2 linked regions of the Homo sapiens genome follow. The protein of the gene in region 2 purifies or fractionates together with the protein of the main gene of each other region. This does not show direct contact. Each region holds a gene or a part of one and is shown on either strand. Other genes may lie near its edges.

Region 1 (4,410 bases), on a different chromosome or scaffold from region 2:
AACTATTGTAGTTTCTACTCTGTTAGTACCTCTGTATGTGAGCTAATAGCAACTAACTCAAGGAAGAGGAACCTGACTTTAATGCCTGCTGTGTGTTGGGCCTGTGCCAGACACTTTATATTTACTCCGAAGCAACACAGTGCAGCAGGTGTTACTCCCATCTGATCAGTAAGAAACCCAAGATTCCAATGGCTTAAGGTAGCTTGTTTGAAATATCACAGCCAGTATACGATGGAATTGCACTACTCAACTAGGTCTCTTTTACTTAAGTCTGTGCTCTTCCTATTAGACCGGTAGTTTTTCAAACTTACGTAGGAGCTTTAGGGCTTCTGAGTTAAGTTCCTTGAAGATTTCTGAACAAGCAGTAGGAAGTTTCCCGATTTTTCCTTTCTTTTTCCTCTCCCAACAACTGGTGCAGCTCTACTTTTTAAAATATATATCAGATTCCAAATGGGATTTTCATTTGAAGAAGGGTCTATGCCATCTTTAGAAAAAAACAAAAAAATGGAAAACCTTTGAAAAGTTAAGCAGTTTTAACTCATAAATATTGATGGATTAGTTATTTGTGAAAGTCACTTGATTGAATACCTCATTTTTCAATGATGCCATATAAGCAGGCTGCTAAGTCTTTTTTCTGGTTGTTGTTGTTGGAGACAGGGTCTCACCCAGGATTCTCTACTTAAATATGACTGTTGTTAATTGAGTGCTACAATTAAATTAGCCATTGCCATCTTTAATTGGAGTGCAGCGGCACAGTCTTGGCTCACTGCAACCTCCGCCTCCCGGGTTCAATTGATTCTCATGCCTCAGTTTCCCCAGTAGCTGGGACTACAGACATGAGCCACCACACCCGGCTAATTTTTATATTTTTAGTCAAGATGGGGTTTTGCCATGTTGGCCAGGCTGGTCACAAACTCCTGACCTCAGGTGATCCGCCCACCTCAGCCTCCCAAAGTGCTGGCATTACAGGCGTGAGTTACTGTGCCCAGCCTAAGTCTTTTATTTTTAACTCAAGCTACTAAACATGCTTCTTTCCAAAAGTCTGGTTTCAAAAACTAAAGGTTCATGGAATGAATCTTTTATTCCTAATTCAGCTAGCTGCATTTCAGGCACAAAGTGGGTGTTCAGTGTGTGCTTGTTGAATTAATTAATATCTAGTGGGGATTTTTTTTTAGTACCAGATAAAAGTAGAGAAATAGGTTATTTTGAAAGAATGAATATCTTTTTATCTATAGTTAAAATATAATGGTGATAAATGTATTTTATAGGTAATACAGATTGCCTTTCCGGATAAAAATTACATAAATCTAATTGCCAATTTTCAATGTTTTTTCAAGATTTTTATTGAAGGATGGTCAGCTGTGGCTATGTGCTCCTCAGGCAAAACAAATATGGAAATGCTTAGCTGAGAATGCAGTTTACCTTTGTGATCGTGAAGCCTGTTTTAAGTGGTATTCCAAGTTGATGGGGGATGAACCAGACTTAGATCCTGATATTAATAAGGACTTCTTTGAAAGTAATGTGCTTCAGCTTGATCCTTCTCTGTTAACTGAAAATGGAATGAAGTGTTTTGAGCGATTCTTCAAAGCTGTGAATTGTCGAGAAGGAAAACTAGTAGCAAAAAGGAGAGCCTATATGATGGATGACTTGGAGTTAATAGGATTAGATTACCTTTGGAGGGTAAGTCAAAAGTAGGAACTCTGTAAATGGTGTCTGATGTACTTTTTCATGTACGTAAGGAATTGTAATTTTGCATATAAATTGTGTATTTTACTCTGATGTTTGTCTCAGGAATTTGGTGTAGTTAGGAATTGTTCATTTTTATTATGTCACCTGTCAGTGGGCTTTTTCTTCTCTCTTCCTCTCCCTCCTCCTGCCACTGATGTTCCTTTTGTCTTAGCTTAGTATCTGTGTATTCCATAGATGTGCACTAAACATACAAATCTTTCATTCCTCCCCCGTGGATATTAATGTTCCTTCCCGAGTTTTCATTCAGTGTCGATCTGTTTCCTCCTCTTCAATGTTTAACACTAAAATAGAGGACAGAAGAGAGGACTTGTGTTTAGTATAGATTATGAGTATATGCTTTATTGGCACTGTTTACCTTGTGATATTTTTAAATACCTGGGGGAATAAAATACTATCTTTTTAAGGCTAATCTATTTTTATAGTACTACTCTATTATGCCTATCTTTAATCTGACCTGTTATACAGCAGTTTATATTGTTTGGATGTCTCACATATTTTCCTGCAAACCATAGATAAAGATGTTTATTGTGGCATTTGAGTATTTAAAAGCTTTTAATTAAGTATGTGGTTTTCAACATTGTTTTAACAGCAGAAACACATCTTAAAACTCAAAATTTGCACCACACTACAAAAGTAAACTGAATTGAACAAGGAAAATATGTTTTCTTACTTGGTCTCCCCATGCTTATCCCCTTTCCCCTCCCCAACCCTTTTATAGGGGCCAACACTGAAACACTTCCTCAAAGTCCCCTAGGGTTCTGAACATAGTTTGGAAACCACTAATGTAATTAGATGAGTGATAAAGATTTATAGAAACTGGGGGTAGAGTAGTCCTTTATGCTAAACTGTGTTTCATGTAATCTCTTATTTCCTGTCAACTAATTTGAATTTCTTCTTGAGTGTCTCACTTGGTTATCAAGATATTAAATTATAGGGTTAAATAATAGTGGTCAAAGCGTATTTTATTTTTACAAAAATGTACCTTTCATTCTTAAATTATTCAGAGACTTTCATTTTGCATTTATTACCCTTTCTTTTGGTCTGTGCTTCTCACTTAATTTTACTTGATTATCAAAGTCAACTTACCATTAAATCATTGAATAGTGTGTTTAAGATAACTGAGGATATGGTTTGAATTTAAATGCCCAACAAAAATATATGTTGAAAGGGATGAATACTTTTATCATTTTGAAACCAGGTCGTGATTCAGAGTAATGATGATATTGCCAGCAGAGCTATAGATCTCCTCAAAGAGATATACACGAACCTTGGTCCAAGACTACAAGTCAATCAGGTGAGGATTGATGTGCATTAAAACTTCCATATATAATTCTTTCGGCCCCCATTTCTCTTATACAAAAGAGAAAAAATATTATCTAAATGAATCTTGCCTTGTTAGTTGTCTTGAAGTGATTGGGTTATTTTTAATATAACTATTTATTAGATGTTGAAATGGCAAAGAAAGTCTATGTGAATTCATTTTGATGCTAACACCTAATCCTGAAGTTCACTTTTGACTAATTTATGTTTGTTAACTTATGTAATGCTAGCTTCCTTTTAATAAACATACATTTTATTATTGTATGGATTCTCTACTTAAATATGACTGTTGTTAATTGAGTGCTACAATTAAATCAGCCATTGCCATCTTTAATTGGATTAATATTTGGTTTTTACATTTTAAAGCAATTTTAACTGTGTTTATTTGGCCTGATATTTGTAGGTGGTGATCCATGAAGACTTCATTCAGTCTTGTTTTGATCGTCTGAAGGCTTCCTATGACACATTGTGTGTTTTGGATGGTGACAAAGACAGTGTTAATTGTGCAAGACAGGAAGCTGTTCGAATGGTTCGAGTATTAACTGTTTTAAGGGAATATATAAATGAATGTGACAGTGATTATCATGAGGAAAGAACAATTCTCCCTATGTCGAGGTTTGTGAATAACTAATCTATTGGTGCTAATTCTTAATTATTTGATATTTTCCTAGCCATTTGGTAAAAGGAGAGCAGAAATTTTTCTCGTTTGAAAATTGTTGTCTTTGCCCATTAAAAACATTTTCATTTCATCTAATTTTTTTTAATAACCTCCCCCACTCTCCCATCTGGTTTTGTTTTGGTTTTTTGGGTGAGGCATTCTTAAGTTGTTTTCTAGTTTTCTTTTTGTCTTTGACATTATTACTCATTAAGTGTTGCAGTGGCATTTTGCAGTTGAAGTGTTTTTGTTTATTTGTTTATTTTGAGAAAAGGTCTTATTCTGTCACCCAGGCTGGAATGCCGAGGTGTAATCATGGCTCACTGCGGGCTCAAGCGACCTTTCCACCTCAGCCTCCCAGGTAGCTGGGGCTACAGGCACAGGCTACCACACCTGGCTAATTTTTTTTGACTTTTTGTGGAGGTGGGGTTTCACTACATTGCCCAGGCTGGTTTCAAACTCCTACGCTCAAGCAAATCCTCCTGCTTTGGCCTCCCAAAGTGCTGGGATTATAGGCGTGAGCTACAGTGCCTGGCCTGTAAAGAGCTCTTAAAAGCTGCCTTGCATGGCATATAACAAATATTTTCAAATGGTGTTTATAGTTTTGGGATGTTTTGTGTAGTCAATGCCATCATTTTTTTTAAAGAGTTTTGTTTATTAATCATGAAATTATATACAGTTGCTTC
Region 2 (5,321 bases):
GACCCAGAACATCCAGTCCTGGAGCAACCACTCCTGGAACACTCAGACCTGGTGCACCCAATCCTGGAACAATCAGGCCTGGAACAGTCCCTTCTATAACTGTGGAGAGGAATCTCTGCAGTCCTGCATGCAGTTCCAGCCAAATTCTCCTGCCAGTGACTTGGAGGCTGCCTTGGAAGCTGCTGGGGAAGGCCTTAATGTAATACAGCAGACCACTAGGTATTTTAGTACTCCACAAACCATGGATTTATTCCTAAACTACTCCATGAACATGCAACCTGAAGACGTGTGAAGATGAGTGAAACTGATATTACTCAATTTCAGTCTGGACACTGGCTGAATCCTTCCTCTCCCCTCCTCCCATCCCTCATAGGATTTTTCTTGTTTGGAAACCACGTGTTCTGGTTTCCATGATGCCCATCCAGTCAATCTCATGGAGGGTGGAGTATGGTTGGAGCCTAATCAGCGAGGTTTCTTTTTTTTTTTTTTTCCTATTGGATCTTCCTGGAGAAAATACTTTTTTTTTTTTTTTTTTTGAAACGGAGTCTTGCTCTGTCGCCCAGGCTGGAGTGCAGTGGCGCGGTCTTGGCTCACTGCAAGCTCCGTCTCCCGGGTTCACGCCATTCTCCTGCCTCAGCCTCCCGAGCAGCTGGGACTACAGGCGCCCGCCACCTCGCCCGGCTAATATTTTGTATTTTTAGTAGAGACGGGGTTTCACTGTGTTAGCCAGGATGGTCTCGATCTCCTGACCTTGTGATCCACCCGCCTCGGCCTCCCTAACAGCTGGGATTTACAGGCGTGAGCCACCGCGCCCTGCCTAGAAAAGACATTTTAATAACCTTGGCTGCCGTCTCTGGCTATAGATAAGTAGATCTAATACTAGTTTGGATATCTTTAGGGTTTAGAATCTAACCTCAAGAATAAGAAATACAAGTACAAATTGGTGATGAAGATGTATTCGTATTGTTTGGGATTGGGAGGCTTTGCTTATTTTTTAAAAACTATTGAGGTAAAGGGTTAAGCTGTAACATACTTAATTGATTTCTTACCGTTTTTGGCTCTGTTTTGCTATATCCCCTAATTTGTTGGTTGTGCTAATCTTTGTAGAAAGAGGTCTCGTATTTGCTGCATCGTAATGACATGAGTACTGCTTTAGTTGGTTTAAGTTCAAATGAATGAAACAACTATTTTTCCTTTAGTTGATTTTACCCTGATTTCACCGAGTGTTTCAATGAGTAAATATACAGCTTAAACATAAATCTTTGTTAAATTTTTGGTTGGGGTGGAGAAGGAAATTAGCTGAGGACACTGCTATCTTAGAAATGCATAGAAATAGCTGAGCGTGGTGGCCTATGCCTGTAGTCCCAGCTATTTGGGAGGCTGAGGCAGGAGAATCGCTTGAACCTGGTAGGTGGAGGTTGTAGTGAGCCAATATCACACCACTGCACTCCAGCTTGGGCGACAAGAGCAAAACTCCCATCTCAAAAATAAATAAATAAATAAGTAAATAAATGAATAATAAATAAATATGCCAGTTTTAGAATGAATGAATAATAAATATGCCAGTTTTAGAAAAAAGGGCACTTACGTGCATTGTACATGTGCATCTACAAATGTAATGGGTTATTTCCGTGTATGAATCTGTAATTGATGCTAACATTTAAAGTTTCATCAGAGGCCTATATGTAAGTAAATTCTAAGGCTAGTTGAAACAGATTTATGTTCTCACCTTAAGAGCAGCTACGCAGGCATCTGTGAATTATACTAATAATCCTTTACTGTCCTTTTCCCATCTTGTGCCTGCCCTAAATGTATCTGATCTGAGAGCACGTCCCTTCACTCTGAAGCAGCATGATGCAGGTTATCAGAGTGGTTTTTTCCAGTCTTTTCTCTCATTATTTCCCCAATTGTCCAATGTTACTAAGACTATCCAGTCTAATTCCAAGTGTTTTTTTTTTGTTTTATTTTGTTTTTTTTTAAGACTGGAGTCTTACTCTGTTGCCCAGGCTGGAGTGTAGTGGAGCGATCTCGGCTCACCGCAACCTCCGCCTCCCGAGTTCAAGTGATTCTCCTGCCTCAGCCTCCCAAGTAGCTGGGACTACAGGGGTGAGCCACCATGCCCAGCTAATTGTATTTTTAGTAGAGACAGGGTTTCACTATGTTGGCCAGGCTGGTCTTGAACTCCTGACCTCATGATCCACCAGCCTTGGCCTCCCAAAGTGTTGGGATTACAGGCGTGAGCCACTGCGCCTGGCCTATCGTTTGTTTTTTTAGACAGTCTCTCTCTATTGCCCAGGCTGGAGTGCAGTGGCACAATCTTGGCTCACTGCAACCTCCGCCTCCTGGGTTCGAGCAATTCTCCTGCGTCAGCCTCCTAAGTAGCTGGGATTACAGGCACCCAACATTACACCCGGCTAATTTTTGGTATTTTTAGTAGAGATGGGGTTTCACCATGTTGGCCAGCCTGGTCTCGAACTCCTGACCTCAGGTGATCCACCTGACTCGGCCTCCCAAAGTGGTGGGATTATAGGTGTGAGCCACCGTGTCTGGGCAATTTTTTTTTTTTTTTTTGAGATGGAACTTCACTTTTGTTACTCAGGCTGGAGCACAATGATGCAATCTCTACTCACTGCAACCTGCACCTCCCAGGTTCAAGTGATTCTCTTGCCTCAGCCTTTCGAGTGGCTGGTATTACAGGGATTTGCCACTATGCCCAGCTAATTCTTTGTATTTAGTAGAGATGGGGTTTCACCGTATTGACCAGGCTGGTCTCGAACTCCTGACCTCAGGTAATCCACCCTCCTCGGTCTCCCAAAGTGCTAGGATTACAGGCATGAGCCACAGTGCCCAGCCTTCTTTTTTATTTTTTTAAGACGGGCTTATTCTGCTGCTCAGACTGGGGCTTAGTGGCACCATTTCACCTCACTGTAGCCTCGACTTCCCGGATTCAAGCAATCCTCCTGCCTGAGTCTCTCAAATAGCCCAGACTATAGGTGCACACCACCATGCCAGCTAACTTTTGTGTTTTTAGGAGAGACGGGGTTTCCCCATGTTGGCCTGGCTAGTCTCAAACTCCTGAGCTCAAGCAGTCTACCAGCCTTGGCCTCCCGAAGTGCTGAGATTACAGGCATGAGTCACCAGCCTAGCCCTGTATTATGTTTTCTGAACTTTTTTTTTTTTAATCACCCAGTATTAATCTTCAACCTCTTGGCAGGTAAGAATTTAGAGATCTATTTGGAATAATCTTTAAAGTAACAATAATAACTACAGTCAAAAGCAGTAAGATTAGTGGGCCAGGTGCCGTGGCTCACACCTGTAATCCCAGCACTTCGGGAGACCAAGGCAGGTGGATCACCTGAGGTCAGGAGTTCAAGTTTAGCATGGCCAATATGGCGAAACCCTGTCTCTACTAAAAATACAGAAATTTGCCAGAGGTCTTGGTTTGCGCCTGTAATCTCAGCTACTTGGAAGGCGGAGGCAGGATAATCACTTGAACCCGGGAGGTTGCAGTGACCCCAGATAATGCCACCCCACTCCAGCCTGGGCGACAGAGCGTCACTGTCTCAAAAATAAACAAAAATAATAGGAGATTAGGCAAAAAGGATAGTACAAGGCTCTCTGTTTAACATTTCTTCCTTTCTCTAGAAAATTTTCCTTTCTTTTCCCAAAAGGAGGTGTGTGTTACTTCCAATGCTATATTTTAGTAGCTTTACCATATTTTAGTTTTTAAAATTCATTATTTTGATTTCTCAGCTTTCATTTTCATTTCAGTTTGTACCTGAAGGAGAGAAGCATGGATTGAATTTGCCTGGGTTTTCCGAATTTCATAATATAAATTTAAAACTCAGAAGTGGGAGGAATACAGGCCTTGATTAGTGAATTTCAAGCTCAGTTCTCGGGGTGAAGGACAAGGTTAATTCTACTCTGAGTAATTCTACCGTTCAGAAAACCTGGTGTGTCTACAGGAAAAAATACAGGCTGTGACTACAAACCTAAAAGTAAAGGCAAACAACTGCCAGACAGAGGCAGGAAAGTGGGGGAGAGCCCTTGGTAAATATTGCATGCCTCCTGGGGCCCCCATGGGCTTTGACTCAAGGGGGAGATGAAGGGAATTTGTTAAAGAAAGAAGTCACTGGGACAGACAAAAGCTTCCGGCACAGGAAGTTAGTTCGACTAAGGATACCGAAATGTAGGAATTTGAATGGGTTCCTGGGTGTGAGGTTGAAGTGAAACTTGATTGAAAAGAAGCTGCTGGTGGTGAGTCTCTCCTTAAGCTATTCCTGGCTTCTGGGTAGTTGGTGTAAACTCTGTGGTCCTTGAATAAAGTGTGCTTGAGAATTTTAGAAGGTTAAGCATCTGAGAAATTACTTCAATGCAGTGGTAGCACTACCTCTGATGATACTACCAAGCAAACTATTAAGAAACAGAAAAGCTCACAGATCAAATTAAGATGCTAGAATCGTATTAAATCAATTAAATACATGGAACAAAACAGGCAAAAAGATGGGATACATTAATCCATTTAGGATAAGGTGCATGTGGAGTAGAAAGGGTAGCAGTGTTTACATGTCCTCTGATAACACTGGCGTAGTCACAAGAGCTAAGGACAAGAACCAAGGGTGAGAATTTGAGATTCAATTAGGGCCAGGGATCTGCAGAACAGATGTACCTGGAACATGGGTGTCAATGTGCTCTTATCAGAGAGACAAAGGGGCAGTTATTCCTGGCCACGAAAGTAGTTCTTGGCTCATTGAGCAGCTATGAAATCTATTTGCAGGCCAGGCATGGTGTCTCAAGCTTATAATCTTAACACTTTGGGAGGCCAAGGTGGGTGGATCACCTGAGGACAGGAGTTCAAGACCAGCCTGGCCAACGTGGCGAAACCCCGTCTCCTAAATAAAAAGTAGCCGGGCATGATGGCAGGGGCCTATAATCCCGGCTACTCAGGAGGCTGAGGCAGAATTGCTTGAACCTGGGAGGCGGAGGTTGCAGTAAGCCGAGATCGCACCATTGCACTCCAGCCTGTGAGACAGAGCAAGACCCCGTCTCCAAAAAAAAAAACCAAAAAAACAAAAAAACTGAAATTAAAATGAGTTCCGTTTGGAGGTAAATACCTTTAAGAGTACTTTAGATTTACATAGCACTGGGCTGGGCACGGTGGCTCACGCCTGTAATCCCAGCACTTTGGGAGGCTGAGGCTGGTGGATCACAAGCTCAGGGGTTTGAGATCAGCCTGACCAACATGATAAAACCTTGTCTCCACTAAAAATATAAAAATTAGCTGGGCATGGTGGCACATGCCTGTAATCTTAACTACTCAG

Evidence for each region.
Region 1: the proteins of NANOG (region 2) and USP9X purify together in Homo sapiens (affinity purification with western blotting; 2 studies listed by BioGRID, with this or other methods). This does not show direct contact.

The regions. Positions count from the first base shown.
Region 1 is NC_000023.11:41,164,535-41,168,944, forward strand, and holds part of USP9X (ubiquitin carboxyl-terminal hydrolase 9X), read left to right. Parts: intron 1-1,337; coding exon 1,338-1,680; intron 1,681-2,947; coding exon 2,948-3,043; intron 3,044-3,472; coding exon 3,473-3,684; intron 3,685-4,410.
Region 2 is NC_000012.12:7,794,804-7,800,124, forward strand, and holds the end of NANOG (homeobox protein NANOG), read left to right. Parts: coding exon 1-292; 3' UTR 293-4,343; downstream 4,344-5,321. UniProt on the Homo sapiens protein: Transcription regulator involved in inner cell mass and embryonic stem (ES) cells proliferation and self-renewal. Imposes pluripotency on ES cells and prevents their differentiation towards extraembryonic endoderm and trophectoderm lineages.